Regions from separate parts of the Homo sapiens genome. Here region 1 is linked to region 2. A link means that fine-mapping ties the variant in region 2 to the expression of a gene that starts in the linked region. Tissue or cell type: left ventricle. Region 2 holds a variant in brackets; the other region holds the start of a gene. All regions are shown on one strand. Distances are from middle to middle.

Evidence for each region. PIP is the estimated chance that this variant, and not a neighbour inherited with it, causes the effect.
Region 1: it holds the start of FBN2, and the variant in region 2 is fine-mapped to the expression of FBN2 in left ventricle (GTEx, PIP 0.98).

The regions. Positions count from the first base shown.
Region 1 is chr5:128,528,895-128,544,459 of GRCh38, reverse strand. FBN2 (fibrillin 2) reads left to right here and starts at 6,215. Exons shown (of 65, transcript NM_001999.4): 1 at 6,215-7,110; 2 at 7,976-8,058; 3 at 13,767-13,865. The coding sequence starts at 6,857. RefSeq lists enhancers at 5,389-5,889, 7,615-8,545.
Region 2 is chr5:128,671,969-128,687,533 of GRCh38, reverse strand. The region is part of intron 2 of LOC105379168 (a long non-coding RNA gene); the gene reads right to left. Among named protein-coding and RNA genes, the nearest start is that of FBN2, 140 kb to the right of the region's middle. The variant G/A (reference allele first, on the strand shown) is at 7,857.

The DNA.
Region 1 (15,565 bases), 140 kb after region 2:
TATTCTCCAAGTAATTTTTCAGCAGCTTTATCCTCTTTCTCTTCCTTTGAAATTCAGATAATCAAATGTTACATATTTTATTATAGTCTCATAGCTCCCTAAGGCTGTTTGATTTTTCAGTGTATATACTCTTCATTGTTCAGTTTGAGTGATTTCTATTTTTCTATCTTCAAGTTCACTGATTCTTTCCTCTGCTCTCTGAATTTTGCTGTGAAACCCATCTATTAAGTTTTAAAATTTTGTTTTATTTTTAAATTCTAAAATTTTCATTTGGTTCTTCTTTATGTCTTCTATTTCTGTGCTGATGCTTTCTACTTTCTTTCTTTTATCATCTGTTTCAAGAGTTTTACAATGGCCCACTGATGCATTTTTATTGTAGTTGCTTTAAGAATATTGTCAGACAATTCTAACATCTGTGTCATCTCAGTGTTGATGTGTATTGATTTTCTTTTCTCATTTAAGTTAAGATCTTCCTGGTTCTTTCAATGATAAATGATTTTCAGTTGAATCTTGGAATTAAAAAAAATTGCTGGTAAATAGTAGGTGTATATGAATCTTGGACATTTTTTACTTTATTTTGTGAGACTTTGGGTTATATTTAAATTCTTTGTTTTAGCAGCCTCCTCTGATACTGCAATGGTGGGCAGACAGGGCAAGGGATGCCTCATTACTGCTAGATGACGGTGGAAGTCCAAGATCTACATGCAGCCTCTGTTGACACTCTTGAGGGGAGGAGTAACTTGTTATTTATTACTGGGCAGGGGTGACAGTACAGGGTCACCACTCAAGCTCTTCTGTACCACTCTGGCTAGGACAGTGGTGTTTCATTACTGCTCCCAATGTAGTTTCCCATGATATTCCATGACACCTTGGTGGTGGTGGGATGGCCTCATTACTGCTGGGCAGTGAGAAGATTCCTGAGCATCTACTAGGTATCTTCTGACACCATCCCAGCAGACAGGGGCATCTCATTACTGTTAGGTGGAGGTGGAAGTCCAGCTTCTCCACTGACACCATGGGGAGAAGGTGGCTCACGACTGTGCAGGGGGATGAAAGTCTGAGCTTTCCACTTGGCTTTCTCTGACACTATCCAGGAGAAGGGGAGGGATACCTTGCTACACCCTGGTAAGGATGAAAGTCTAGGCTCCTTACTTGGCCATTGTTGGTAAAGGTGACTACAGTTTTTTTCTGTGGTTTGGTTAGGGCAGTTATTGTCTAAAAGTGTTTTGTCTTTCTAGGCTATCCCTTTCTTGTCTTTTGGCTAGAGAGGGCAGGCTTTCTTTCGAGGCTTTCTTTGGTCTGTTGCCAATGGCATTTCCAAATTGCCAGATTTCCTAGCACTCATTCTGGGATACAAAAAGCAAAAGACAATTCAGGAAAACCACCATCATGTCATTCCTCAGGTTCCAAGGTCACTAGCAGGGTAACTAGTCTGCCTTCTTCTCCCTACCATTTACAGTCTTCTTATGTGTGCATGCTCTCTCTCTCCACATATATTTATTTATGTTTAGTTAAGTATACTTGCCAAGAGGAATAAAGTACATCTAATCCACTCTGCCTTTGTTCTTCTTGCAGTATTTTGAATCAAACCCAGGCATCCTATCATTTCATCTATAAAGACTTTAGTAAGTATAACATTAGCCAGTATATTAAAAATATAACAATGATTCCATTGTCACATCTCCCAAAATTAAAAATAAATATTTAATATCTAGTAACCAGTGTTCAGTTCAGTGTTCTATCACTACATAACAAATTACCCCTAAAGTTATAGGTTTAAAAAATTTATTTTGCCTTAGCCTTTTATGGGTCAGGAACTCAGAAGAGTTTGCCTGGGTAGTTCTTACTTGGGGTGTCTCACGCAGTTGCAGTTATATATTGACTGTAGCTGCAACCATATAAATAAGACTTACTAGACTGGATGATAGCATCAAAAATGTTATTTTTCACTAACATTCATATCAAAATCCCAGATAAGGGGCAAGCATTGCTTTTGGTGGTTGTGCCATAACAGTTCCCCTCCCTCTTCTCTACTGATGTCATTTATTTGAAGAACTTGGTCTTGTGGTATATCCCATTCTAGATCTGGTTACCTATATTCTCAAGGTATCATTTAATATGTTTCATGGTCCTCTATTGTTCTTGGAAACTGGGAGTTAAATGTAGAGATATGGTTACATTCAGGCTCAGTTTTTTTGACAAAGATATTTCATAGGTGGTCTGTGTACCTCCTATTGCACCATAAAAATAAAAACATAATGTCTGGTTGTCTTACTTTTCATAAGTTAATAATTAATCAGTAGGTTCTGGTGGTAACAGCTTGACACATTCACTAAAAAGTTCCCAATTGACTTTTTGATGCACGGCTTCCCAAGTAAATTTGTATTTTGGACCAGATAATGCTTTGCTATGGGAGACTGGCCTGTACATCGTAGAATGTTTAGCAGCATCTCTGATACTCTCATCACCACTCCCACACACTGTCTTGTTGTGACAATAAAAAATGTCTCCAATTACTGCCAAATATACCCTGAGGAAAAATGGCCACAAGTTGAACACTTCTTACCTAATGGTTTTAGCAGTTGTTAAAAACCGTTGCCTAGGTCCATTATTTTATTAGGGTTTACAAGTAGTGATTTTTCTAATTCCATCATTCCTGCATTTACAACTGTGGTTTTTTTTTTTTTTCAAAAGAAATACTTTCTCTGGGTCTTTCTAGCAAAGGAAGAATAACTGGTTAATAATTTTATTTATCGATGCGTTTAGAATAGTGAGCTGTGCCCTAACAACCTCCAAAAGTGGCCAACTAATTTTTGTTTGGAGTATCATTCGGAAATCTTGAATACTGACACACTTCATGTATTTCAATCTTTTGCTGTCATTTCTTTTTTCTTTTTGATGCTCAAGTTTCCCCATCCTTAACCAGCAAGATCTCTTTCAACTTAGCTCAGGTTTCCTTTTGACATGACCTTAATAGTCAGATAATTTCTTGCTTTCAGGCATGACAAGACAGATAGTCCAGATTCACTTTATGCATTTCCTTTCCCAGACTTAGAATCTGCCACTCACCCAAGGAACCCTGATTCCTTTAATTTAGAAATGGTATTTAGGAACCACAATCTGGTCACAATGACCTTATGGTTTTTGGGTTGTCACTATTTCTAGGTCTTTGGAACATAGTTCCAAAGCCAGAACTATAAAACTAAGTTTATTTAGAAAGGTTTAGCTTCCACCATTGTTTCTTTCCTCATAGTCTCCCCTTTCTCTACAGATAACCATTTTTTATTAGATTTAGTTTATACTTCTTGTTTGTTGTTAAATCTATAACACACTCATACCCCTAAAAAGTAGCATACAATATTATACAGCTTTCATTTAAAAAATATTGTAAAAAATAGACATAACATAAAATTTACCATTTTAATCATTTTTAAGCGTGCAATTCAGTAGCATTAAGTACATGCACAATGTTGGACCACCGTCACCATTATCCATTTCTAACTTTTTCATCATCCTAGGCAGACCACTTTGTACTCACTAAACAATAACTCATCCTTCCCATTTTCCTGGAGCTCCTGGTAACCTTTATTCTACTTTGTCTCAATGAACTGCCTAGTCTATCTGTACCTTGCTTTTTTTTTATTTTAGTAGACTGTATATGCTAGAGATCACTCTCTAAGAGCATACAGAGTTTCTCTTCATTCATATTTGACAGCTGCATAATACTTCACTGAATAGATGAAGTCATACACAACAGTTGCTTGTTCATGGGAAGTTTGTGTTTCTAGTCTTTCACTATTATAAACAGTGCTGCAAAGAACAGTCAAATGTATGCACCATTTCATTTTTTTTTGTCTATGTATCTTTTATATAGGTTCCTAAAAGTGGAATTGCTGGATCAAAGGGTAAAGGCATAGGCAATTCTAGAGCATTTAGATTTAATGTGATGGACAGGAATGAACCATGAAGCCACGTAAGTATTAAACAACAGCAACAACAACAAAAAAAGCAGATACAGGATGTTTTAAATGGTATGACTAAAACACTGCTTTAAACCAGGAGATAGTTACATTAGTTAGCTCTTTTAGTTTAAATAATTTTATTATTTGAAGCGAAGTACGTGAAAATAACTGTATTGCTCTTTCTCTGGATTTTAACAAATCGGTGTCTCACATGAAATTATGTAACTCTTATCTTTTCTTCTGCTTTATGAGAATACTGTAACAAGGGGTACTACCTTCAGACCCTTTGACTACATGGAGAAATAAAGGAGGGAGTTGTGCCAATTACTGGAGAATTTTGGCTGTCAAATAGCACATCTGGGCAATTTGGGCCAGAAATACATATATATGATATATGATATATATATGATATATGATATATATGATATATGATATATACGATATATATGATATATGATATATATGATATATACGATATATGATATATACGATATATATGATATATATGATATATGATATATATGATATATATGATATATATGATATATATGATATATATGATATATGATATATATGATAGATCATATATGATCTATCATATATATCATATATCATATATCATATATATGATATATATGATCTATCATATATATGATATATCATATATGATCTATCATATATATGATATCATATATATGATATATGATATATATGATATATGATATATATCATATATATGTTATGTGTATATATGTATATATGTACGTGTATATATATACACACACACACACACACACACCCTCCTATACATATTCAACATTTTCCCCTTTAAACTAAGGTTTTCTAGGCTTGAATAAACCAGACACTGCTCTTTTGTACTGTTTCGCAAACTGTGCTTGGATGGTCTCTCCTTGTTTTCAGGAGTGTTTGATTTTTAAATTGTGATATTCCACTAAATGAGAAATGACCAGGACTTCACAGAGATTTCATGAAAGGAGGGCCACAAAGGAAGAACCCAGAGCAGGCCGGTGAGAGGCACTCTAAGAGGTACAGAGGGTTGCACCAATTGCTAGGATTTAATCAATCAGAAGGGGTCCAAGCCAGGAAGCAAGGGCATGCCCCGAGCCTCATTTACCCGCCTTGTCACCACCCTGCCCGCTAGTACATTTCAGAGTCTCTAACCCCTCCCTGCATGCAAGCCCAGGCAGAGTCCTGCCAGGTTTCACACCAGAGCACACCCCTGCACGGACTCCCCAGGACCGCGGCGCCGGCTGGCTGCCTCGGCCCCCCGCGGCCGCGTGAGCTCCCTCTTGGTGGTGGAGGGCGCATTTCAATCTGGAAACTCCCAGCCCCTAATTTGGTCCCGCAGACTGACGCCGCTCCCGGTGGGGCGGTGGGGGTAGGAGGGCAAAGGGGAGGTCTCCTCCTTCTTGGATTGAGGCTGCAACCAACAGCCCCGTGAGCCTCTATTCCTGGCTGACTGCGAATCCCCCCATCCCAGGTCAGGGGCCGGGACCCTACAGAAAGACCCGTTCTCATCCTCAACCTTGCGGCCTCTGTCCGGCGGGGAAGTTCAGCTGCGGGTCAGTTCAGCTGCGGGTCCGGCCAAGCCTGGCGCGCTTAGGCACCCTAGTCCCTGGTCCGCGGCCGGGCGAGGACGGAGGGGGAGGGGAAGGGGCTGCTGCCTCCTTTCCCAAATCCGGTCCCTAATCGCCCCATCCCCCGCCGTCTACTCGCTTTGTACAGGCAGTCAAAACAGAGCTAGCGGCCAATTGACGGGGACGGGAAGCAAAGCCGCCTAGCGCCTCGCCCCCTCCAGCCGGCCCCCCGGGCCCCTCCTCTCGGCGCCCGGACCTTGGCCCTCCCTCTCCTTTCCCACTTCTCTCTTTGCCCTAACTTCGCCCCCATCCCCCGCTCATTTCCTCTCGCACCCGGGCTCGCCAATCCCTCTTTCCAAGTCCCTCTTCCAGCCCGGCCTTCCTCTCGGGTTCGCCCCCCTTCTCCCCAATCTCCGTCCTCTTCCCTCCCTTCGCCCTCCCCCCCTTCCTTCCTCTTCCCCTCACCCAACCCTGGTTCCCCTCGTTCCTCAGTCCCGATCTCTCCCTTACTCTGTCCCCGCCCACTCTGCGCCGGCCTCTCAGTCCGGGTTGAGCCCCACGTGTGGACGGCCGCGCCCCCACTGACAGCCGCCGCCCGCCGGCCCGCCCCGCGCCCCGCCGGGCCTCTAAAACCCCCGCGCCGCGCCCTCCACCGCCGCATCTTCTCCAGCGCCCAGCCTCCCGCCCTCTCTCTTGCTGGCCGCACGCCCCGGCCCCGCGCACCTCCGCCCGGCTCCGCAGCCGCTACCCGCGCTTCGTTGCCCTGTGGGACTCCGAGCGAGCCCGGAGGGAACCCTCCTCTTCTTCTGGGGGCGACTTTTGTTTGCTTGCCTGTTTCTTTCTGGTGACTTTTGCAGCTTTCCAATATCCGTCTTCGGAGCGCACGGGAATCCGCCGAGCTCTGCGTGCAGGCCCTTTTTTCTTTTGAGGTTCACATTTTTTGAAATTTTACGCCAGGGCTTTTGTAATTTCCTCCCCCGCCCGCTGACGGTCCTGGAGTCGCTCGGGGCTTTAGGCCGGTTATGCAACGTGTACCGCTCGGGGCTGCCGGCTGCACCTCCGCCGCGCCTCGCCGCTCACTGCGCTAGACCCGGCGCCCCGCGTCTCGCTTCGCGGGCAGTCAGGGGGCCGGCGCTCTGTCGAGGTCTCCAGCTAGAGCAGGGAGCCCGAGCCCGAGGGAGTCCCCGGAGCCGACGAAGGGCTTATTAGACCCTGACTCTTTTCTGAGGCGCGCAGATTTTGTCTTTGATCACTCCCTCTCCGCGGGTCTACGGCCGCGCGCTTTCGGCGCCGGCGATGGGGAGAAGACGGAGGCTGTGTCTCCAGCTCTACTTCCTGTGGCTGGGCTGTGTGGTGCTCTGGGCGCAGGGCACGGCCGGCCAGCCTCAGCCTCCTCCGCCCAAGCCGCCCCGGCCCCAGCCGCCGCCGCAACAGGTTCGGTCCGCTACAGCAGGCTCTGAAGGCGGGTTTCTAGCGCCCGAGTATCGCGAGGAGGGTGCCGCAGTGGCCAGCCGCGTCCGCCGGCGAGGACAGCAGGACGTGCTCCGAGGGTAAGTGGGCAAGCGGCTCCGCACCTAGGGCTCCGGCTTGGGGGAGGGGGGAATCCTCAGTTTGGCGGCTTTCTGGCCCACTCCGTCCCAGACCCTTTAGCTGGAGCCTAGAGCTGCAGCCCCCTTTGCCAGAATATCCAAAGACCCCCAGGAGCGCGTCCCCCTTTTCCTTCCCAACCCCGCAGCTCAGCGGGCGGAAAGCCCTCTCTCCGGGGGTTGGGCGGCGGGTGGTTAGGGGGTCCAGGGGTGCCGATCGCAGAGCGTGTGCAGAGCTCGCGCTGCGGGAACAGGTTCTGAATGTCCGGCGGCAGGCGGGCCTGGGTCCGCCTGCTGCAGGGGCCAGAGAAGCCTGCTTGCTCCCCACGTCGGGGCCGCCGCTCGTGAGCCTTTTGTTTGAGGACGTGTGCAGGGTTCACAGCTCACCTTCTCATCGTCAACCCGAGCGCTCCACCTTGCGACGCGCTTTCCTTGACACGTCGGGGCCAAAGTAACAGTTGACCAAGGAGGAATGGATTTGGGAAGGAGGGCAAGGATTCTTTGGAACGGAATGGTCCCTTTGTTCTCTGCATCTGGAAGCTAGAATAGTAGCAAATTATATGTTTCCATGCCTCTTTTCGCCCTTTAAAAAGGCAGGCAAGGGACGACAGATGAAAGGCAGTGTTTAGACATTTCTGACCCTCCTGCATTCCAGCATCTAGCTCTTTTGCTTCCACGTCTGCCTCCCGATCTCCAATAATTTGAAGTGTAATTTTGATTTGTTTGTTGTCCTGAAATCTACTCGCTCGGGGCATTGCTTACGAAGACCGTTTATATGTTGCTGCATCCCTCTACCTATCTGTTACGTGACCGCGCTTGTCCATCACAGGCCCAACGTGTGCGGCTCCAGATTCCACTCCTACTGCTGCCCTGGATGGAAGACGCTCCCTGGAGGAAACCAGTGCATTGTCCGTGAGTGCTTGGCAGGGATCGCAGCTTGGGGCAGCGCACTCGGCCCTATCTCCGGCCGACCTCTTGCACTCAGCCATTTGGACGCATAGTTGCGTTTAAAATCAAGTGATCACATTGCACTGATAATCGGGACGCGGCCCCATTTGAATAGTGGGGAAGACTCAACCGGTTTGAGTCAGTTCAGACTTCACTTCTAGACTCTGTTGAAGGGCAATAATGATAAAGATTTCAAAGATAATTGAAAGTTTTATCTTTCTATGTCTATTAATACAAATTGGAAGAGGGGAGGAGTAGAGCAATTATCTAGATAACTCAAAACCACTTTTTCTGTAAAAAATCCAGATGAGACCACATGTTATTATGCAAATTATCAGGCTTTTAACTCTGCTTGAGGTTTGGGCCTTATGAAGATCAAGATTTCTTAGGCATTTATATAAAACCACTTTCTTATTTCTGGTTTTATATCAACAACCACATAACCTAGATACGAAAGGAGCATTCTCGCGGATTTAGTGTTGACCTAAGTTAACAAACTTTTAAAAGACAGAACTCTTACAAAGGGGCTTGAGTTTTTTTTTTTTTTTGCTTTTTGGAAGACGTTTAAATTTAGGGTTTCCAGACCCTGAACCTCAATAGTGTGCAGTAGATTTCCAAAGTATGAATCTTAGACCTTGAAAAATTCTGTATCTCTGACCTTAAAAGTTTTGATTATTTTATTCTGTTTCCAAAGTGTATAACCAGTTCTCCAAGTTCTAATTGGAGAGCTCATTAGTTATCAGCCTCACAGTCACGGACTCTGGGATGTCTTATTTCATATGCCTGTAAATTTGTGACTTGCAGTGTGACTGGCCTTCTCCTGTGTGTTTATGTAGCACAACCACATTTGTCTTGTTGGAAGGAGAGCCAGGTATCATAGACAGCACATTCATTTAGAGCCAGTCTTGACTTTAGATTGACCTCCATGTTCTCCAGGGAGAAAATAATTATGCAACTGTGAACAGAGAAAAAGGGCAAGGCACACTAACCAAGGGATAATAAGGATGTAGTGGCATTTCTAACTCTGTATTTATTGGTTTTGTGGTTTTGAGATAGATGCTTAATGTTATTTCTGGGCAGTTTTTAAAAAAGAGATGAAATCTCCAGTGTCATAAAGACTAATTTCTTCTTATTTTTTCTACCTTAACATCCCACTATTTCCAATGGCAAAAATAGGAAACAACTGTGTTATTTAAAGTGACTTATAAATATTTTGAACAAATCCTCTGATTATAATAAGCCTTTGCTTTATTTTTTAAAAGAACATGTTCTGCATTCTTTTCTCTCCAACACAGAAGTCATATGTGAGGCATTAATGGAGGGTGGGTTTACTCTTTCAGGCCAGTAGGGCATTACCATGGCTGCTTTAAACTTACACGGTTTTTTAGACTCCTGAAACAGCTAACGTCACTCATCACACACCTGCCATACTAGCTGGGAGTGACTTAGGCACGGCGGAAAGTCTGACTCACTAAATGTAATGAATGTGACTGCCATTATTGAGTTGGAGAGCAGCCGAGGAGGAGGGATTGGTTCATGGTACGTGTTGAAAATCTGTAAAGTCAGATTTTATTGGATCAGTGTGGAATGGGAATTCCAGAGAGCAGAGCCTTCCAGAATATTTGCAGTAGAAATATATGTATGGCCCCACTGATCACTGGTAGAAAATCAGCTTTGAAAATCTCAGGGTAACAGTGACTATTGTAATCTGCATTTCTGAGACTTGAAATATTTGGATGGTTATGAGCTACATTGGAATTTACACGTATCAGAAATCTATGAGAGTAAACTTTGAAATGATCTTTATATCTGTAAGAAACATTTATAACACTTGTGTCAAGACGTATCTACAAAAATATTTATTAGAAACACATCTAAAAATTCTAAGTACCTAAGATTATTAAACAGTGCACAAAATAGGGACAGTGTAATACCTTTATATTCTATTGCATGAGTCTCATTTAATGCTAATAGCCTGCATTCAATTCAGTAGTTCAATTAGTCTGACATTTAAAATGATCATATGTAGAGGTAATAAGTGAAATGAAACCGTTATAAACTCAAAATCAAGAATTTTAATTCCAGGCCTTCCTGATGATAATGAATTAAGTAAATTATTATATTTATTGGATTTATCTGTATCACACCATTTAGCAAAAGAAAGTATCTGAGACCATTTACAAAAAAGAAAATAAATAAAATACAAATAAATAAAAACCAAATATTAATTTTCTCATACATTTGTACCTCAGCATTCTTTTAATATAGAAAAATAAAAAATGGTCAACAGAATTTTAGTGTTTGACAGGCTTTATAAGGAGAAGATATTAAAAAGAAACTGTAATTCTCCAAGTTCTGGAAACCTAATGCATTTTGATTTGAGTCTCTATGTTTTGTTGGTATTGTGCTTAGTTGTAGCCTAGAAAAATTACTGAAGTACTTCCAAACTTCCAAATATTCATTTCCAAAAGTACGGAATTGACTTTCTCACCTTTTTTTTTTTAATCTTCTTAGAACATGAAGCAATGAAACAATTTGCTTATTAATTTATTTATTGTGAAATTATGCTATGAACAGTATTTTGATCAATATAATAAGAGTGGGATGAGGTTGGCTGGACTAAATAACATTTGAGACCTGAGGAAACATCAGAGCATTCCGGTATAATTCCTTTATGTTATGCTACCAAATGAAAACACTGAACCCAGAAAGGCTGTGGGTTTTTCTGGAGCTCATAGCAGATCAATGGCAGAGTGACAACTAAACTTCAGACCTTTTGGGTACTATGTATTCTTTACCTGGCCATGTGACTTCTCACAGCATCACTGAAGTCTCAGCCCCTAGGTCCTGTCTCCCTCTCCCTCTGGTATTTCTAGGTCTCATAGTTTTAGTAATTGTGGGAGGGACGTATTCAGTAAGTGTACCATAGTCTGAGGCTGTTGTGGGGCAAAAGGGCCTCAGCATTCTTGCTTCTCATTGGCTCACAGATACAGAGTATATACCTGTATCCACGACAGGTAAATGCCTGAGAATGCTCAGTCTCCAGCCCATCAAACCTTCATTTGGTTTGGAACCCGGGTGGAGGTACTTTGGGTCTCCTCTCTTAAGCCTAGACTAAATATTGGCCTTCTGGGGAGGAGGAAACTTTGAAATAAAACAATGTTTTAATGCACATTTGTCATTGGAGAGTTACTGGTGATCAGAAACTGTAGTACATTTTAAGAAGTAAGAGTCAACTCCATGGCAGGAAACATATTCTTGCCTAAAATATTTTTATCTTAACATCACAGTATTTGACACTATTCACTTTTTCTTTTTTTATTAATTTGAGACAGGATCTGGCTGTCATCCAGACTGGAATGCAGTGGCATGATCACAGCTCACTGCAGCCTTGACCTCTCGGGCTCAAGCTGCATTCTGACCTCAGCCTCCTGAGTAGCTGGGACTATGGGCACATGCCAATGTGCAAGGCTAATTTTTAAAAAAATTTTCGTAGCGTTGGGGTCTGCCCAGGCTGATCTCCAACTTCTAGGCTCAAGTGATCCATTTGCCTAAGGCTCCCAAGGTGCTGGGATTACAGACATGAGCCACCATACCCAGCCCACTGTTTTCATTTATAAGAAGTACTAATGCTAGTAGTAATATATGGATATCAGAAGGCATCTTGGAGAAGAAAAACAATTAGTGAGTTAGTTTACTTCTGCAGGAAATGCTTTTTTCATTGTTGAGGGTCCCAAATCTCTTTGAAAGTTGTGGGACCTTTCCCTAACTACAGCCAGTTTCAGAGCATTTCCAGACTTTCTTCTTGTCTTTATATATCCAGTCATGGCATGAGCATTAAAGTACACAGCCCTTGTGCCGAAAGAGAGAACTCAATTATGGTTATAGAGAGAAATCTCTCAGCTCCTAAATGAACTGTCTCTAAACATGGGAGAGACTTCCCATTCGAAGGTACTTGGCTACAAGTGTGGAGTATCTGTGGAATGTATTGTGTCAGTGAGCCTAACATTCTTTGCTGTGATGACCCTCATACCTTTCTGTTCATTGGAGGTCACAGCTGCAGGAGGCTTTGACTCTCCCCACCATCAAAATGCCACAGTAGCTTTTCTGAGCAGTAGGAATACGCTAGGTTGTGGAGATAATATGGAAGGAGAAAGGCTGTAGGAAGGAGAGGGAATTATTGAGGGGACCAAAGATTGATCACAGGGTAGGTCAGATACCAGCCTGGAAGGAATGTGTGTGGAACCCTTGAGGCTTGGCCAAGTCATTAGAACTGGAGCCTCTGGTTCAGCCAATTTCATGTTGTCTGTCTCCTGTGAAGGCTTTTGCATAGTGGGCTGTATTTTCTCTATTCCTGCAACCCTCCCAACTACTTAGAATCAAGGCTGTCTTCTCTGGGTGAATTCTGCATTTTAAACTCTCAGTCTTTAATGAAAGAGACAACCTGTATTGATAAGACAATTAAAGATTTAGGATTATGCAATTTTTTTTTCCTTATTGCAAAGCTTTAACTGTTTATTAAAAAAGTAATAATCCATACATAAGCCCATCATGCAGTGAGATCCATTGTACTGTTTGGTGAAAGTTCTTTTAGACCTTTTAAAGCCAGTAAATATGTGTGTGTATATATATATATATATATACACACATACATATATATACACTTATATATACATACATATATATACACACACACGCACACATATATATGTATTTTAAACTTAAAAAGCCTGTGCTTTATTTTATTCTACCATGTTTTCATTCTGTAACGTTTACTTACATATGACTTTATTTTTGTTTCTATTTTTCCATAAGTTATTGGGGTACAGGTAGTATTTAGTTGCACGAATATGTCCTTTAGTGGTGATTTGTGAGATTTTGGTGCATCCATCACCTGAGCAGTGTCCACTGCACCATATTTGTAGTCCTTTATCCCTCACCTCCTCCCACTCTTTCCTCCAAGTCCCCAAAGTCCATTATATCATTCTTATGCCTTTGTGTCCTCATAGCTTAGCTCCCACATATCAGTGAGAACATACAGTGTTTGCTTTTCCATTCCTGAATTACATCACTTAGAATAATAAGTCTCCAGTCACATCCAGGTCACTACAAATGCTGTTAATTCATTCATTTTTATGGCCGCATAGTATTCCATTATATATATGGTGATATATATATTATATGTATCACAGTTATATATATATATCACCATATATATATAACAGTTTCTTTATCCACTTGTTGATTGAAGGGCATTTGGGTTGGTTCCACGATTTTTCAGTTGTGAATTGTGCTGCTATTAACATGCATGTACAAGTATCTTTTTCGAATAATGACTTCCTTTCCTCTGGGTAGATACCCAGTAGTGGTATTGCTGGATCAAATGGTAGTTCTACTTTTACAGCCACTATGGAAAACAGTGTGGAGATTCCTTAAAGGATTATGCAATTTGAAACAGCTTCATTTGTTTACACGTTTTCATAAGGATACCTGTGAGACTTATTCCCAAGTCTGCAATGGGTAATTTTATTGCATATCTGAAGTTAGACATTTATATCATATATTTTATCTTAGTTTTTCAGGCTTTTTATTTTTAAATACAGCTTTCTTGTTTTGTAAACTATGGTTTATTATATAGTTATTCATTCATTTTCCTATTGTGCTTTCTACAGCGATTTGTAGAAATAGTTGTGGAGATGGATTTTGTTCCCGTCCTAACATGTGTACTTGTTCCAGTGGGCAAATATCATCAACCTGTGGATCAAAATCAAGTATGTTTCTTACTTGTGGCCTTTTCACTGCATTTTTCTTAAGCTTTGGAGCAAATGCTAAAGGTCCTTCTATGTGCCAGGGAGTTTTAACTGTTATTACTTTAGTTAATCCTTACATCAACATTATGAGATACTGTTAATACCCCATTTTACAGAATAGCAAAGTAAAGCACACATAATTTAATTAACTGGCCCAAGGAAACACAGACTTGAATCCAGGTATTCTGATGCCTAAGTGTATAGTCTCAAACACTAGACTGTATTTGTTGCCTTTGCTTAACATGTGTTTTGTGGGTTATCTAAGGGGGAAGGAGAGGAGAACTCCAAAGGCAGCATGTGTTTATTGAGTACTGACCACATACTTTACACATAATGGACCTATTTTGCTTCACATGTATTAACTGCCAACAACTTCATAAGATAATTATAACTGTGGACTATGATTGTGTGATTCATGACCCAATTAGAAATTGTTGGGTCCTTAAGGTCGAAGATTAATCTTTGAGGCTAGTATTTAAGATAACATTATAACAAGGCAGAAGCAAGATTGTTTATTTAATTGCTCAATAATTAAATAAATGCTTTCTTAAGTCTTGCCTCAAACTAGTGTGAAGTCATTATATTTTTAATACATCTTTCTTCAAATTTTCCCTAAAAGAAGGTAATATAGTATGTCTGACTCAGGAATAAGATTCAGGATTCATACATCAAATGCCATTGTCTTCTGATGAAACTCCTGATGAAAACTCTCTTAATTTCACTTCCTTTGAATCTGCCATTTCCTCAGCTTTTAAAACCTACCATTCAAATTCATCAAGATTTCTTGACCACTTTAACCAGAACATTTCATCCCCAACTTAACCTGAACCTCTCTTTCTTGCCTGATTACCTACAAGATACTGTTGCCAGTATGTTCATTATCCTGTTCCTAGTTTTCTCATATTTGCCTTTGGCAAAAAACACAATGCTGGAGGAATTTTAAGATTCAGTTTCTTAATTCCTCTACCTGGGAGCTGGGACATTCTCTGGTCCACTCTTTGCTTGTGGTATATAATTTAGCAGGGAATCTGTGCATTCATTTGGCCTTGGGCAATCCTTCCATTTCATCAGGAACTTTTCTAACCCTCCCAATCATCATCCTGTTTGACCTTGCTAAAGCTTTTGGCACTATTAATCATTATCTTCTTGAAATGTTGTTTTTCATTTTCTTTGAAACACCCTTGACTTTTAAAATGCCAGTGGCCTTCAGTGCTCCTTTTCTTGATCATTCCTTTTTAGTCTCTTTTCTATGTCTTCATCAGTCTTTCATTCAAGGTTTGGTATTCCTGAGTTCTGCCCTCCCTGGGTGAACTCATGTTTTCAATGACTACCAATCTGTTGATAACTCATAATATTTATCTACACTGGAGATCCCACCACTGACCTCCACACTCATATATTCCCTTTCCCATTTGACATCTCCACTCAAGAAATAGCAAGCAATTGAAACTTAGTAGCATGTCTAAAAGGAAACTGAATTTATTGCTGACCACAGGCTACTTGAACCACACAGTTCCTCCTGCCTTGGCAAATGGCTCTGCCATCCACCCAGTGCTTAAGTAACTGCTGCTTCTCTTTCTCTATGTCGGCTCTTTAAACAAGTCCTGTAGGCTTTACTGGAAAATAATTATCTCAGATTTATCTTTTCCTTTCCATCTCCA
Region 2 (15,565 bases):
GCATTCTCTCTGTTCTGTTTTTGTTCTTAGAGAAGCAAAGAATGTTTTCTCTAACTCGTCAGAGCTGTGTTCTCCAACTTCTCCTAGTCCACAATGAATAGGAAGAATGCTACTGTTCTACAAGGAATGAAAACTTCCCTGAATTCAGAAAAGTTCCAGAAAATCTGCATGGTAGTTCAACAAATGACAACTCCTACATATCAGAGAGTTCCAAAGGTAAGAATATCCAAATTTTAGATTATTTACATGATATAAACCACAAGGCTTTTTCACTACTTCAGTCCCTCTCCTTGGACACATAGTTTGCCTGTCTGTGTATCTATTAAAATGTGGTGTCCTGTCTTGAACACACCACGTAGCATGTTAGACCAGCACAGGTTAGAACAAGCCTGTCCCTGTGCTTATTGTGCCTCTGGTACTTCTGCCCATAAGCCTTTCTCACACATGTTGCTCTTAAGCCATATTTAATTCACCTTAAATTGTGCAGTGAGATTTGGGGTTCTAAATTACTTCTATTAACTATAAGCTTGACATTATAGAATGCCAGCCACTCAAATTTGAGTATTCACTCCATCATGTGATATATAACCCTCCTGTTTCATATCATCTACAACTTTATCAAGGTCATAACTGAAAATACAGAATAGAGCAGGGCTAAAGATAACATAAGTTAATTTTAATCAATGATCTTTGCACATAGTTCTCTAACTTGTTATAAATTCATTTAAACACTGTCCTATTTTTCAGCTCAAATTTTTCCACCAATATCCAGAGAGTTGATCAAATGCATTACTGAACTTAGCACAACGTCCATACCATGCCCCTGATCCACAATCCCAAAAGGGAATGAATCCAAAATTGGTTGTGCTTTTTTTCATAAACCCAGTAGTTCCCCACTTGTTTTCTGAGCTCTTATAACCAATCTTTTAATAATCTGTTCTGGAATCTTTCCCAAGACAAGTAACAAGTTTGTGGAATTTACTTTCTTACAAATTTCAAAAAAGAATCTAGTCTTCAGGTATCTGTAAGTTTCTTCATAACGCTTTATAGATTATTAAGCAGAGGCTCAACAATGCCACACTTATATTCTCAGTGTTGTACTGTGTAATTTTTTTCTAACCTAGGAAACTAAGATACACTTAGAGCATCCAATAATTCAGAGCAAATTATGTTCTCACCTCTCTTTTTGAGAAGTATTACATTTACCAAAAATAAATAAATAAATAAATAAATAAAGGGACTGACGCTTGAATGTAGCTAAAATGAATTTGCTTTTAGGTGGGCAAATGGAAATAGTCTTCGCTATAAAACTCGGCTAACACATACTTCCTTCTATGAAGTTATTTATTTTGTTCTCCCCCTACCTGAACAACAAACCTGCTTTTGAGTCAAGGATCTGATATAACCAGATATTTTAGTGTGACTTTAAGTCAATGTGCTCTTTCTCAAAGGGAGTATTTGTGTTTTGATCCCCATTTCTATCTTCAAGTGTGGAATTTAAATCTAGGTCCTTTATTAAGGGAATTTCAAGTACCAGAGAGCAGGTGGGGGAAATTCAGGTAAACTGGGAGGGGGAGAAGGGCTCCTATATACACCTTAGATCACACCACTTGACTGCTCTTTCTTACACTTGTACCTGAAAACCACCTGGACCAGGAAAGAAGGAACAGTTCAAGAAAGATAGTAGACGTGCACTATGTTTTGACCCCTTTGTGTCTGAAATATGAGTTTGAAGATATATGCCTATATTTATCTTCAAAAACATAAATCTTACGTTTCTCTCAGTAATTCAGTGCCTGCTGCTAAAAGATTGCAAGAGAGGCTGTGGAGCTGAAAGTTGAACGTCACTGCAAGTTCGGCTCAGAATATTTCAGAGGCTGGGCTTCAATTCTTGTACTATCTCTTCCTTATGATGGTTACTATGAACGGTGCCAGTTTGGAAGCTTAACAAAAATTTTCAGGCACGATTCTAACATAAATCATATATAATAATAAATATAATCATCATATAATAATATTCCCAATTAAATTGGATTTTTAACCTTTCAAATAATTGACCATATAGTATATCTCCTGGAACTTCTGTTATCTAATAGCCTGAAATAACCATTCTTAAGTCAATCCTTATACATAATTTTAGATGAAAATATTTCACTCTAATGTCATTTCACTAGTAAAATGTGCCATATAATATATTTTATTAACTGCGAATTCAATGCCATTTGTATTTTAGGTAAACTACTGATGAAAAAACAAAACAAAACAAAACTACCCAGGGAAGCTATTCAATGCCCTGTGCAATGAGACATTCTCAGAGAGAATCATGATAAAGAAAAGATGTGGCTGAATAGCATTAGGCATGGATCCAAAATTCATTCACATAGTTTGGTGATTTCATTTGCAATTCCAGGAAGTTAGTTTGTGGTAAATCTTTGTTCTTATATTCCATCAGATATTTTTAAAATTGGAAAAGCCTCTGAGAAATGACATAGAGAATTAATGATACCTCAATACACTCTTGGCAAGTAAGGAAACAGATCTGAATAATTATCACCCATTCCAGTTGTGAATTTATTGTGAAAATTCTGATGCAATTATTTTTATGTTAAAATAATAAAGTTGAAATAATCTACTGGAATGTTGCCTTTGGAACTTATAGTAGGAAAGATGTCGGCACAGCCACAAACTTCTAAATCTGCCCCTGTAGTTTTTCTTTGAAGATGAAATAACTAAATAGATAATAACTGTATCAAATAGATTTGTAACATGGTATGAATGGGAATTCAGTTTTTGTTTGTTTTTGCTATGATGGCTTCAAAGTAAGATAATTACTTCTTAATTTCAATACTATGAAGTAAGTAAAAAATCCCAGATCAATTTTGAATACAAGAGTAACATTTAAAAGAATTTCCTAGTTGAGCTCAGTTTAAAATTGATAATATAGCATCTTAGTAAAATATAACATATCCAGTCCAATTCTTTTCTTTAATACTATCCAACATATCTTCCATTTAAGAAAATATTTGAGCAAAAATTGGAGTGAGAGTAGGGTGGAAAAGAACCATTGTGGAATGGGGTGGGAGGGAAATATTTCAGCAAATACTTTGCGTCAGAGCCTTGCCCGCATTAATTTTTCAAAATAAAATAATCCTGGGAGATACAAATCATTATTCTCATTTTTACAGATAAGAAAAGTAAATCTCAGAGACGTTAAATAGCCTGCTGAATATTACCTGACCAGTATTCAAATCAACTAACTCTGTTAACTCTAAAATCCATGCACTTTCTGCCACCACACAGATGTTGAATGACAAGGGGTAAAATTAAGATAAATGGCAAATTATCAACTCCTAGGAGTATTACATAGCACTAAAATTATACTTTTGAAATCTAACATTTTAAGAAATATGATAATTATTGCATGAACGAGGAGAATTCCAAATGTAGCCATCCTATGATTATTATTATGTAAAAAAAAATTTAAGTTGATTTCGTAAGATAGTAGTAGGATTATAAAGAATTCTAAATATATCTTTTATCATTGTTCTAGAGATATCTGTGAAAAAATATATACATGTAGAAAGGGGGAGAATATCTGTTTCTTGAATATGGTCAAAATGAATGTTTTGGGATACAATTTAAAATTGAGAATGCATTTTTACATAATGGATTCAAATATGTTATCTCATTTAATCCTCACAAATATATGAAATAAGATAATTATTATCCACATTTTACAGCTGAAGAAACTGAAGAAGTAATAGATTAAGTAACTTGCCCTCAGTTATCCAGTTGTCCAGCTAACTACTGATGGAGGCAAGTATTGAGCCCACAGCTCATATTTTAACCATAGAACCTATGCTGCTAATATTTAGGAAAGACAAAATGCATCAACAGTGCTTGTTTTATGGAAATAAAAAGTGGATGATGATAGATTACATAACAATGATAAAATGACAGGCTAATATAAAATACCAAAGCAGTAAAAAAGACAGAGCTAACAAGCCAAAAATAATCAAACATTAGAAATAATTCCAAAAGAGTCACTAACACTAATATGGTATCACAAAGGCTAACCACATAAAAGGATGTGTAGAGAAAAACATAAACACATCTTACTGAAGTTAGCAAAAATAAATAAGTTATAAATATATTATATATTAAGATTGACACTTAAGAAACAATTGAACAGTTACAGATGCCAAAGAGAAAATGTGAGAATGGAATGAGAATTCTGTACATAAGAATAAAAAGGAGATGAAATGGGTAAATATGATGAATAAATGGAGGAGAAAATTTTGTACCTGATATTTACATGTATTTTATAGCTAATTCTGCAATAATCCACAATTGGATTGCATTGACTTGAGTTTTGTCTCAACAAGAATTTCCATATGTTTTGGTAACATACCGTGGTAGAGGTCAGGAACTCATCTTCCAGTCTTCCCTTACCCTCATCTATGTTACCTCAGGCACTGACTTAGCCTCCCCTGTCCTCAGTTTCCTCATCTGCAGAGAAGGAAGTAGAGATGGGAGGCTGTCTAAGCTCATCCTGTGGGTGCAAGTAATTTCTGAACTGTATTTCACTAGTCCTGTTTTTTGAGCACAGTGACAGAAAAAAACACGAAAAAGAGAGATGAGCTGTAGTAACACTTATGGCAGTAGTCTAAACAAAATGACTGCCTATTGCTCAATACAGCTATTCGAATCTATATTCCCCCTATGTATTTATCAATTCCTTTTTCTATATGGTGAATTGTTTTAATACACCCAACTTTAACTGCACATCATGAATCTCAAGGATCATACAGAGAAAGAGGCTTCAGAGGCAGGTAGACTGTGTTAGAATGTTCTGCCCTGATGCTTGCTGAGAATTTTGCTTAATTTCCCTGAGCCTTAGTTTCCTCATCTACGAACAAATATTATCCACTTTAAGAATTAAAATGAGGATTAATGAAATAAATGATGTGAATTAGCTAGCCCAAAGACTGCCACTTAGTAAGGAATTTAATAAGTGGCCGCTATTACCAGGGCACTACACCACAGGGGGGTTAGTGAGTAATGTGAACCGGCCGTACCAGTTGAGCAGCAATCAGATTTAAAGACTGAGAGAAATAAAACAGGCAAGTGTCCATTTTCCCGGGTTTATGGAGACAGACTACAAAGTGGAAGTATGCCAAAAAAAAAAATTTAGAGAGAAGTAGATTACAAAAACACAAAGAAATCAACACAGGAGAATGCAGATAAATGTGGGAGAAAAAGGCTAAGCTAAGAGGAAAACTATTTTGATTCTGATTCAAGTATGTGACTGATAAAGCCGTGACCCTTCCCAGGCTGGGTGAGTGGTGGTCCCTGAGTTTAAATGTGATCCCAAGAACATACTGACCCAGATCTGGTTTTAGTGACTCTATACACAGAGTCGATGGCAATTTTAAAATATGAAAAGACTTTAGTTACAAGACAAAAACTGTTGCAAATTTTTTGCTTTAAATAAGAAGTGTGAACACATGCACTGCTTCCCACTAAGTAAATGCAGACACCAAAGAGAAGGAAAGCCCCTGGCTTCCCCAAAGTCTTTAAACATACCCCAGAGTGACTGCTCTATAAGGTCATCAAGGGTACCTCAAGCTATAGAGGAATCACTTTGTTCTTTAGCGACTAAAGTGAGTACTTAGAAACCAATGACAAACTACACAGGAAATGCTTAATGTTGAAAAATGTATGCATGTAAATGTCCACAGATCAATTAATATAAGCTGTACTTTCTCATCTTCCTGCTTTTGTTCTTATTCTTTTCTGCCTGAAGAGCTCTGCTTTTCACAGTTTATACAGTTTCCAAGTTTCAGCTCCAATGGTATCATCTTTGGGAAGTTTATTTCTCCAGAACCATAATCTATGTGATTATTTTCCACCACTGGAACTTCCCATATCATCACTTACATATTTATCTGATATACATTTTGCTTTATATTATATCATTTTTTGCTTCTTTTTTTTCTCATCAGGTTGTAAGCTTTTCTAGGGTAGATAATTGATTTGATTGTCACCACTGCTAAGTACACATTTTCCCATGTCGTAGGTACTCACTAAATATTTGTTGAGCGAATGTTGTATCACAAAATTTATCAACAGCGCTCTACCATTTTAAATGCTAAAGAATGTGACAAAAATGTAGTAGCAGGACTCCTTCTACTGTATCTCTCTGGAATGATTGTTGGTCATTCAACAATCATTCCAAAACCACAACAGCTCCTAGGCCAGAAACTCTGGGTCTTCAACGTGAAGTTAGTTTCACAAGCTTTTTTCAGATCACGTGAAACTTCCTCTTTCTTCTGGGACATTTATCATCTTTTTTGCCTGATCAGTTTAAACAAGCTTGTTATATTCAGGGTCACAAAAGTCAACATATTTAAGGCTTTGTGTGTAAGTCCATTAATTAATTTATTTAGTAAATATACTGAGCATTCCTATAAGCCACATAGCAAGGATTAAAGATTAATAAACAGAAAACTCTCCCATCAAGGAATTCCTGATATAGCAGAAGAGACAATGTTGGTTGGGCACAGTGGCTCATACCTGCAATCCCAGCATTTTGGGAGGCTGAGGCACCAGCCTGCGTAACATAGTGAGACCCTCATCTCTACAAAAAAAAATAATAATAATAAAGAAAATTAGCCAGGCTCCCACTTGAGCCCAGGAGTTAGAGCCTGCAGTGAGCCATAATTGTGTCACTGCACTCCACCCTGGGCAACAGAGCAAGATTCTGTCTCTTCAAAACAATAAACAAACAAGGAGAGGAGAAAACATTCCATGAGGTCAGCGACCATGTCCACCTCACACATCCTCATTGCTTGACACAGATCCTGGCACATCTGGGGCACTCAGTCAGTATATGTTGAGTTAAAGAATTAACTAAAAGTGACATGTCATGCAGAGGTATGGGTAACATTGGTTGGTAGCACATGGAAGGCAGGAATTTGTTCTGTAAGACGGAGGAGTGACAGGGGAAGGAATGACTTTAGAGAAGAAAGGGTGCCATTACCAGGTCTCGAATGATGAAGAGAAATGTATTAAATTAAGAAAGAATAAGCACTGACCAGGCTGAGTGAACAACAGGGGAGACGTGAAGGTGTATGATAGGCCATCTAGTGTGACCCATCGGTTTTAACCTTCTTTGGATTGGAGATCATTTTTAAGAATGTGTTGACACCTTTGACCAAATTGCTTCAGAAAAATAAATAAATAACCATATGTAAAAGGGAGTTTTCCTGCATAGTTTTGGCAGAGGTTCAAAGGCCCAAAGGTAGGTACCACATACCTCCATGTTCGGAACTAAGGTACTACACTACCTATGCAGGATTTGCAAAAACTAACCCTAACTCTTTATGCTTCATGTAGCTGCAGGTAATACAAGAGGTTCAGGGGAAAAGAACATTAACATAAGGTGAGAGAATGCTGCGAGGAGTTCGGGCTGAGGTGTTTTCTTCATTGCTTCAGGTGGGGAAGGGAAGAAGTGGAGCCAAGTGGTAGGGCTACAGGGGATCCACTCAGAGTACTTGCTTGGGAGACACAGGGAAATAGGCTCTATGTCATGACAGAAATACAAAGACCCTGAGTGGCTGGGAGCAGCAATGCAGAGAAAGGGCAGAATTGGGAACAAGATGCTTCTCTGCCAAGATAGGTGAGCAGTCCTTTGAGCCAAAGGGCACCACAGGAGGAAACTGGCCTAGGCTCCCTTTAAAAGGGCTCTGCCCAGTAGTACTATCTGTGAGGAAAGATGTCAGTGAGCAAAATGACCCCCCAAAAAGGTGGACTTCCAAGGCCTGGGGGCCGAGGTGGCTGGCTGTATGAGGGAA[G/A]GTGACATTGGATATTTCCAGAAGTGGAACGTTCCTGGAAACCCACAAAAAATGTACCAAGAAGAAAAAGCCCTGGTGAGCCACCAGTACCAAATTTCAACAATACCTGCCAAAGTCTCTTTCACAAATCGCCTTTCCCCCAGCCAGGTGTGAAAGAATCAGAATCTTAGCCAGTAAATTGTGAAGTGCTGGCAAAGCAAGGAGAAAAAAAGACAATGGGCTTTCCAGACTTAAAGCCATTCAAAGCTAGGGCAGAGGGAAGTTCTAAATTACCAAAGAGTTTGCAGTTTTTATTGTTACTCTGGTCTGGACTGTCAAATACAAAACGTATCTGGACTTTGTAAGGAGAGACTTTCTTTCAAAGGATTATTGCAAGGTAAGGAAAGGGACTATTGCAATAGAGGCATGGGATGATTACAGTAGGGAGAACACTCTGACAGTAAGACATGAAAGCACCTCAAGGGTTAGGCAAAGAGTGTATCTGCTATCGGGAGGAGTGGACAGGGCTACAAAGAACTGGTGTTGACAAGTGGATGAAAGAATGGTATGATCAGAGATTGTTTTGCCTTGAAGCCAGCCTACTCTCAGGAGACCTTGTATGTAGCTCAGGCTGGGGAGAGGGGAGCTCAGGGCCCTGGAGGAAAGAGGGAAACTCAACAAAAGTTTGGTTAATAAGTATTTTGTTCTGATTGACCAGTAGGGACAAGTAGTTCAATGAATTATTTCTAAGTCAAAGAATGAGAATTTGCAGTCTGTGTCGTAGGTAAACAAAGAGTCATCGAGTCTTCTCTAAGTCACAGGGGGCAGGGTGGTAATGTCCAAAGAGCTACTTCAGAACACAAAACAGTGGGAGAATTTCTTAACCATCACTGTTTACCAATAGCACAAGACTCAGGTAAAATTCAACATTGTGAGGACTTTGCAGTTTCTGAAATAAGATTGTAGCTATGATTGAAAAGAATCAGAAAGTTTATTAAAATTGCGAAAATTATATCCAAGGGCAAGAAAAACTAGCCCACTGGACATGCTTGAAAGGATGGCAGCTGATTAAATCCCTTTGAGTCCAGCTCATCTGACAGCTACACATGTGAACACCCAGTTGCATGCAAAACTTCAGGGCTTTCTCAGGTCCCAGGCTAAATGAGAATCACTCAGCTAGGAGTTTTAGGGGATCCAGCAAGGGCAAACTGAAGCAGAAGAAGCACCATGCCTACTCAAGCAGCCTTGTTGGTTCTCTGAATCAGATAAATAAGATACGAAGTTTGCCTTTTAGGAGCTTTTACCCCAAGGAGAAATTTAAAAAAAGAAATATAAATAAGTTATTATAATATAATAGAAATGTACAAACACCACAAGAGATGAAGGGATTTAGAGGAAAAAGAAAATTCCCATAACCCAAGAGCTCTGAAAATTCTGAGGAAAGGAGCATGATTTTTTTTTCCCTGGGAGCATCAGGAGAGGTTTTATGAAAGGATAGCCCAAATCTGATGTTGGTCCAGTACAAGATTAGAGAAGACGAAGAAAGAAGATGCCCAGGCATTCCAGGTGAGGTTAACAATATGCACAGGTGGGAGGCAGGGCCTGAAAGGGCCTGTTTGTGGACTTGCAAGTAGTTATGGACACAGGAAAAGAAGATGGGGAGATGGCATTCCCAAGGAGGTGGTAATCCATGAATGCCACACACTAATGCAGTTTCATGCAACTTTCTTTCAGCATGAAAGAATATGCCCCAGAAAATATTTGACAGACAAATGGCATGATCAGATTTGTGCCTCAAGAAAAATAAGTGACATTAATATTTGAAAAGAATTGAAGAGAGAGGCCTGGAGTTAAGATGGGTTGGTGCTATATTTGACACATAAAGTGCATCACTTTTTAACACCTACCTCCTCTTTATAACAAACTTATTTTCAGTAATAAACATAAAATGAGATAAATAAGGACAATGGCTAGAAAAGAAATGGAACCATTAAGATTTTCTTTTCTAAAACTTTACAATGTAATTATACCACTAAAAAAATTAAAAACAAAATCAGTAAAAGAGAGCAATATATAGTATGTATTATGGTATACACTTGTAAATGTCTAAAATATTTTTGGAAAAAGAGAAAAATCTTATACATGCATGTTTATTTGACACAATAATGAATATTAACATTACAGTTTCTGTTAAAAGCCTTGATTTCTGCAACTTTATCAAAATCAATAGTTTTTCATATTCCTGTTCCATAGCAAATATAGCTATATTTATCAATCTCTCTTCATTCAAAGTTGACTAAAGAACATGTTTTGTTAATTTTAAGTTTCAAAATTTTATTTTATCTGAAGCAACCAATATACTACAGGTTGTTTCAAACAGTCTCAGACATAAGTTTGGCAGAGAGTCATAAAAATCCTATTTCACAATAATTTCAGAAAATTTAAATGCAAATAACTCTTAATGGTCATGAAATGGAATTAATTCAAATTCTGCTTTTTTATCTTCACAGACCTTGAGTTATAATTGTTCATTTCAGATCAACTGTTTAAATGCAGGAATAGGTAGTACTACAAGATCGGAATACTTGAATCACGCCTGGAACATGCTTGCATACTTCCAACCTGCTATGTATGTTCTCTGTGGGCAAAGACTGAATCTGTATGTCAGGGGTAAGCTGTATAACTGAAAGTTCTCTGGATTAATGCCTATGTACAATACAGTGTTTATTGAAAGTGTATTCATCAGTTTTCATGTTGCTAATAAAGACATACCTGAGACTGGGTAATTTATACAGGAAATAGTTTTAATGGACTCACAGTTCCACATGGCTGGGGAGGCCTCACGTTCATGGCAGAAGGTAAGGAGGAGCAAGTCATCTCTTACATGAATGGCATCAGGCAAAGTGAGAACTTGTGCAGGGAAACTCCCCATTATAAAGCCATCAGATCTCATGAGACTTATTCACCATCACGAGAACAGTATGAGAAGGACCCACCCCCATGATTCAATTACCTCTCACTAGGTACCTCCCTCAACACATGGGAATTGTGGGAGCTACAATTCAAGATGAGATTTGGGTGGGGACACAGCCAAACCTTATCAAAAGGTAGGTAACATAAATGTGCTGATTTTAAGCTACTATAAATTGATGTTACTGTTGAAACTCAACAACAATAGCAGCTATTCTTTAGAACATATACCAAAAAAGGATTTTTTAGAAGAGAAGCATTTTATCACTGACATTATTTAGGGTTATAAGTGCAGGATATAATAACAAACAAATGTTCTTTCAGTTATTTACACAGTTAACTTTAAATTCTCTGTAATTTAAAATGCACTATTTTATTACCTGTAACCAACGAGATGGTTTCTTCTAGCCTGCCCTTGAATCTTCCACAGAGAAGGGAAAGGAAAATGGTAACTGGCATTTTAAAGTATCAACACTGTGCCAAACAGGGTGTTAGATTCTTTGAAGAGATTATTATTTCTCCTTTTTAAGATGCATATTAAGATCAATTGCCAAAGATCACACAGCAAAGTAAGTGGTGAAACTGGAATTCAAACTGAGGTTTCTCTGACTCCAAAACATATAATATCTTCAATCTACCACATTGTTTCTTTACAGAGGATGGGAGGGAGATAAGTTTAAGGCTGTGGCAAAATTTGGATGAGATGTAATTGAGCTTGGGTTTTGGCAGTGTCAGGGGAATGCAGAGAAAAGCATGGTGGGAGGTCATATTGCAAGACCAGATGGACCAAATCTGGCAACATATTGGATGTGGGAACATGACAGATGATAAAATCCAAGTTTTGAAGCCTGGGGAAAGCACAGACAGGCAACTAAGACACTAACAACTAGCAGTTGCCAAAATCTGACTGAAATTACAGTGAGATATGGAAGTATCTACCGACCAGGACCCTTATTAGAGACCTATATGTGCAGAGTTAACACTTTGATAAGCTGCTTGGTATTGATAGGTAATGTTGTCTATAAACAGTAAATGATCACAAATTGCTTTCTAAGAATGGGGAATTGACTTACTCATAGAACTTTCACTTTGCTGAGTAGGAAATGCAAGTTTGGAGGCAGAGCTGAATTGCTCAGGAGGGCAGAGATGTGGCTAAGGTAGCTATGATCCTCAGTGCCATGCATCATGACTTGCCTTTGTAAGCTCAGTCTCTTTTCTAAATAAAGAATAAAAAATGTTTTTCAAATATAATGGCTTGAAGTGTCACCAAATTACTAGCTTTCAAAGTGCCCCTACATACTATAAGGGTAGTATTGCTTGAAAAATAATTTAGATGATAGATAGACAAACAGACAGTGAGAATAAAGTAGCAGGTTTTCAAGAGCCAATCTGCAGTAATTCATGTAGGCTCACAGCAATTTAGGGCCACTCTGTTCATGCCATTTGGATTAATGGCATTTTTCTCAGGCAACATTAATTCACAGGATACTTCTTTCTGATACTTACATTTCTTTTCTTATGTGGGTGGGATCTTGTTTCTTTTCTTCTTATCTATTATTGCCACTGGCCTTTACTGATAAGAATACAGTAGGTTGTATTTACCTTCCTAGCAATCTACTGGTTGAATTTCCATGGAGCCCCACTAACGACCTGCAGGGAGGAAACTGTACTGACAACAACTGCCACTATGGGGCAGCAGGGAGCTATATCCCTGCATATCTCAGAGTATCATTGATTTCACAGTCCTAGGAGGAAACACACATTCGATAACTAGTTATAGTTTTTTCCCCCCCAATACTTTTATATGGTCGATTCTTATATGATAGGTATGTTTGGCTGCCTCTAAGTCTTTATAAAAAAATATCTATTCCTACTCTACATAAAAAGAAACTTAAATACCTCGAATCTTGGTCTTTAATGACATTTACCAATGTGACTAGATGGTCTGTATCAATCATTCACAGGATCCTGAGAATCATTTAAATTTTGAAAAGTTTACTCTTTCCCACACCTGAAACATCACATTCTACTTTTGGTCAGTAATAGCTAACATTTCTGGAGCTCATATGTGCCACACACAGTTCTAGGCACTTTACATGCATTGGCTTATTTACTCTTCACAACTCTCTGAGGTAGCTTTGGTTTTGAACCTTTTTACATATGAAAAAACTAATTACAGAAGACAAAACAGTCCAAAAAGCATACTATAGCTAACAAGGAAAGCATGGATTTGAACCCAGGTAGTGTTGTTTGGCCCTAGATCCCATGCTCTGAACCAACATTCATTTCACTCATAAAATCTGAGGCAGACTTTCATAATAAAAATATGACTTAAAAATTAAAATGTAATGAACTTCATTGTACCATGAAAGCCTAGAGGGTGTGACAGGTCTACAAAAATCACAAATTCTGAGATGATTCAGCAAGACCCATCTCTAAAATATGGAGCGAACTAAGAAAGACAGGAAGGAAAAAAACTACTTTGAAAGGGTTAAGGATTCCAGAAGGCTGTAATAGCAGGTTTGCAATCAAGGGCCACCATAAAGAAACAGCAGGAGGCGGGGAGGTAATCTTGGTCATGCTGTGAGTGCACAAGTCTTTAGTTTAGAATTGTGTCAAACCACCCAGAAAGCTGTGTTTAAACTTTGTTCCATTTCAGAATGGACATGGTATTTTTTTCTGAAGCCAGAAACTGAAGATCAACTTAAAGCACTTGATTCAATAGAACCTCGCTGAAAAGTTGGAAAGGGTTTTTGCTAAGAGGTTTCAGTCAGGATAAGTCTATTTTTCATCATAAAATAAAATACAAATTATCCATACCATTTAGCAGCAAAAAGCTTTTGAACCCACCTCCCAAGTAAAACCACAACATTCTTCAATTCTGCTTTCTGGTAGGTCAATCAATGTGGCAAAAAAAAAAAAAAAAAAAAAGTACATGTTTAATACCTCAATGTGCCACTGCCTGAGTCCCTTTACCCATTTGGAAGAGAGATTCATTTCGGCTATCCATGCTCTTTTGTTCATGTCTGTGGGCATAACTGGATTTTTTTTCAGGTGCAGGAAAGTGTCTCTGGGGAGCATAGTTTGTGCAATTATGTGTTTCCAAGCAAGAAAGCCAAATTGAGGTTTGGAAGAGCTACACAAAAATGATGTTGGTAATAATTTCCATGGCAAGTTGATCCAATCTGAAAATGGGATTTTATTTTTGTGTATCCTATGTCTTTTAACCAACCTTTCTGAATCCTGATTGATTCATGCAAATCTATGAAAGATCAGGTTTTTTCAGGATGTAGAGTCAGAATAATACTCATTATTTAACCCGCTACAAAGAACACTAATATTTGGCAATTCTGCTCTTACGGAGTATCATTTCTGTTAAATAAGAAAAATCTGAGAAAGGGGAAAATGTAGAGGTTTCCCTATTTCTCCAGGAAATAGACTTCACCCTGAAAGCTGAAATCCTATGCTCATTGTTTTCTACTGAGGACTAGCTGAACAGCAATAGTAGACTTATCTCAGTCACGTGCTGCTATGAGAGTAGCAGCCAAACACCTCTCAGGGGAATCAATATATAAATTTTTGTTTTTAAAAAGTTTTTTTATGACAGCAGACAGCTGCCTTCTGTCTATTTAATAAAGTTGTTTCTATTTAAAGCAAAGATAGAAGTTAGGTAACTATTGAAGAAATTAACTTTCAAAGCACGTTTTCTAATTAACTTTTCTGCTAATGATGACCTGGAGCCTTTTTGTAGATTTGGTTTCATAAGCTTTACTTTATATCTGTCTACCTATGGAAGCATCAATTCTCTTACTCTCTCTGAATGCTAACTGGATCCAATAGTTCCCTAGCTTGTCTCAAACAAACCTGGTTCCCCACAATCCACAATGTCAAGACTGCTAGTTTCTCCCCAGTTTTTCCCCTTGAGCACATCTGACTGGTTTTACAAAGGGAATCACAACACGCTGTCCTTTCTGTCCCAGCTTGCCCAGAGCCCTAAATTTGGGTGAAAGACATTTATTTTACAACTGGAACTGTAAAGAATCCAAACCCTTATTCTTTCTGACTAAACATATTCTTCTCAGATGCATTAAATATTTTCAAATCTCAGTGTGATTATGTTAAAAGAAAAATCATGGAATTTCTCAAAATTGTAAATGTTATTAAGGTGAGATTCTCAGATATGCTCTCATCTGAGATGAAAACAAAACTGAAAGCCCAGGTCCCTTGAAAGAAAAGAATAGCTCCTTTGTATGTGTTCACTGTAAACACACAATAAAGTTCAAAAATGCATCCACAGTCAATGTTTCAACTACGGAGAAACAAAGACTGGAAAGAAAAAACAAGAATTTAATGATGCCTGTAAAAACATCCTATGTGAAAATAATGCCACCCACCATCACTTTTTTCTTTTTTTTTTCTTTTGCTAACTACAGCATAGTTTTTCAAAGAATCTTTGGCATCTCTAGATGATAAATTATGTGAATTATTGTTGGATCAAAATTCCTTTGAAATAACTGCAGGTGTTCAAGATCCTGTCAGAGCAAATGTATTTTAAGTACCCTGAGGACGCTGACATCCAGCCATTTCTCAGCCTTCTTTGAGGTAGAGCTCCTGTTGGGAGTGGCCTGGTTTAAATTGGAGACATATGGAGAGCTACTCAACGAAGACTGGGGAAGTCTATCCAATTGGCATGGAATTAGAATCTGACTCCTTCTGATTTAACTCCATATCTGTGGTTCTTTTTTCTGCTATGTATTCTC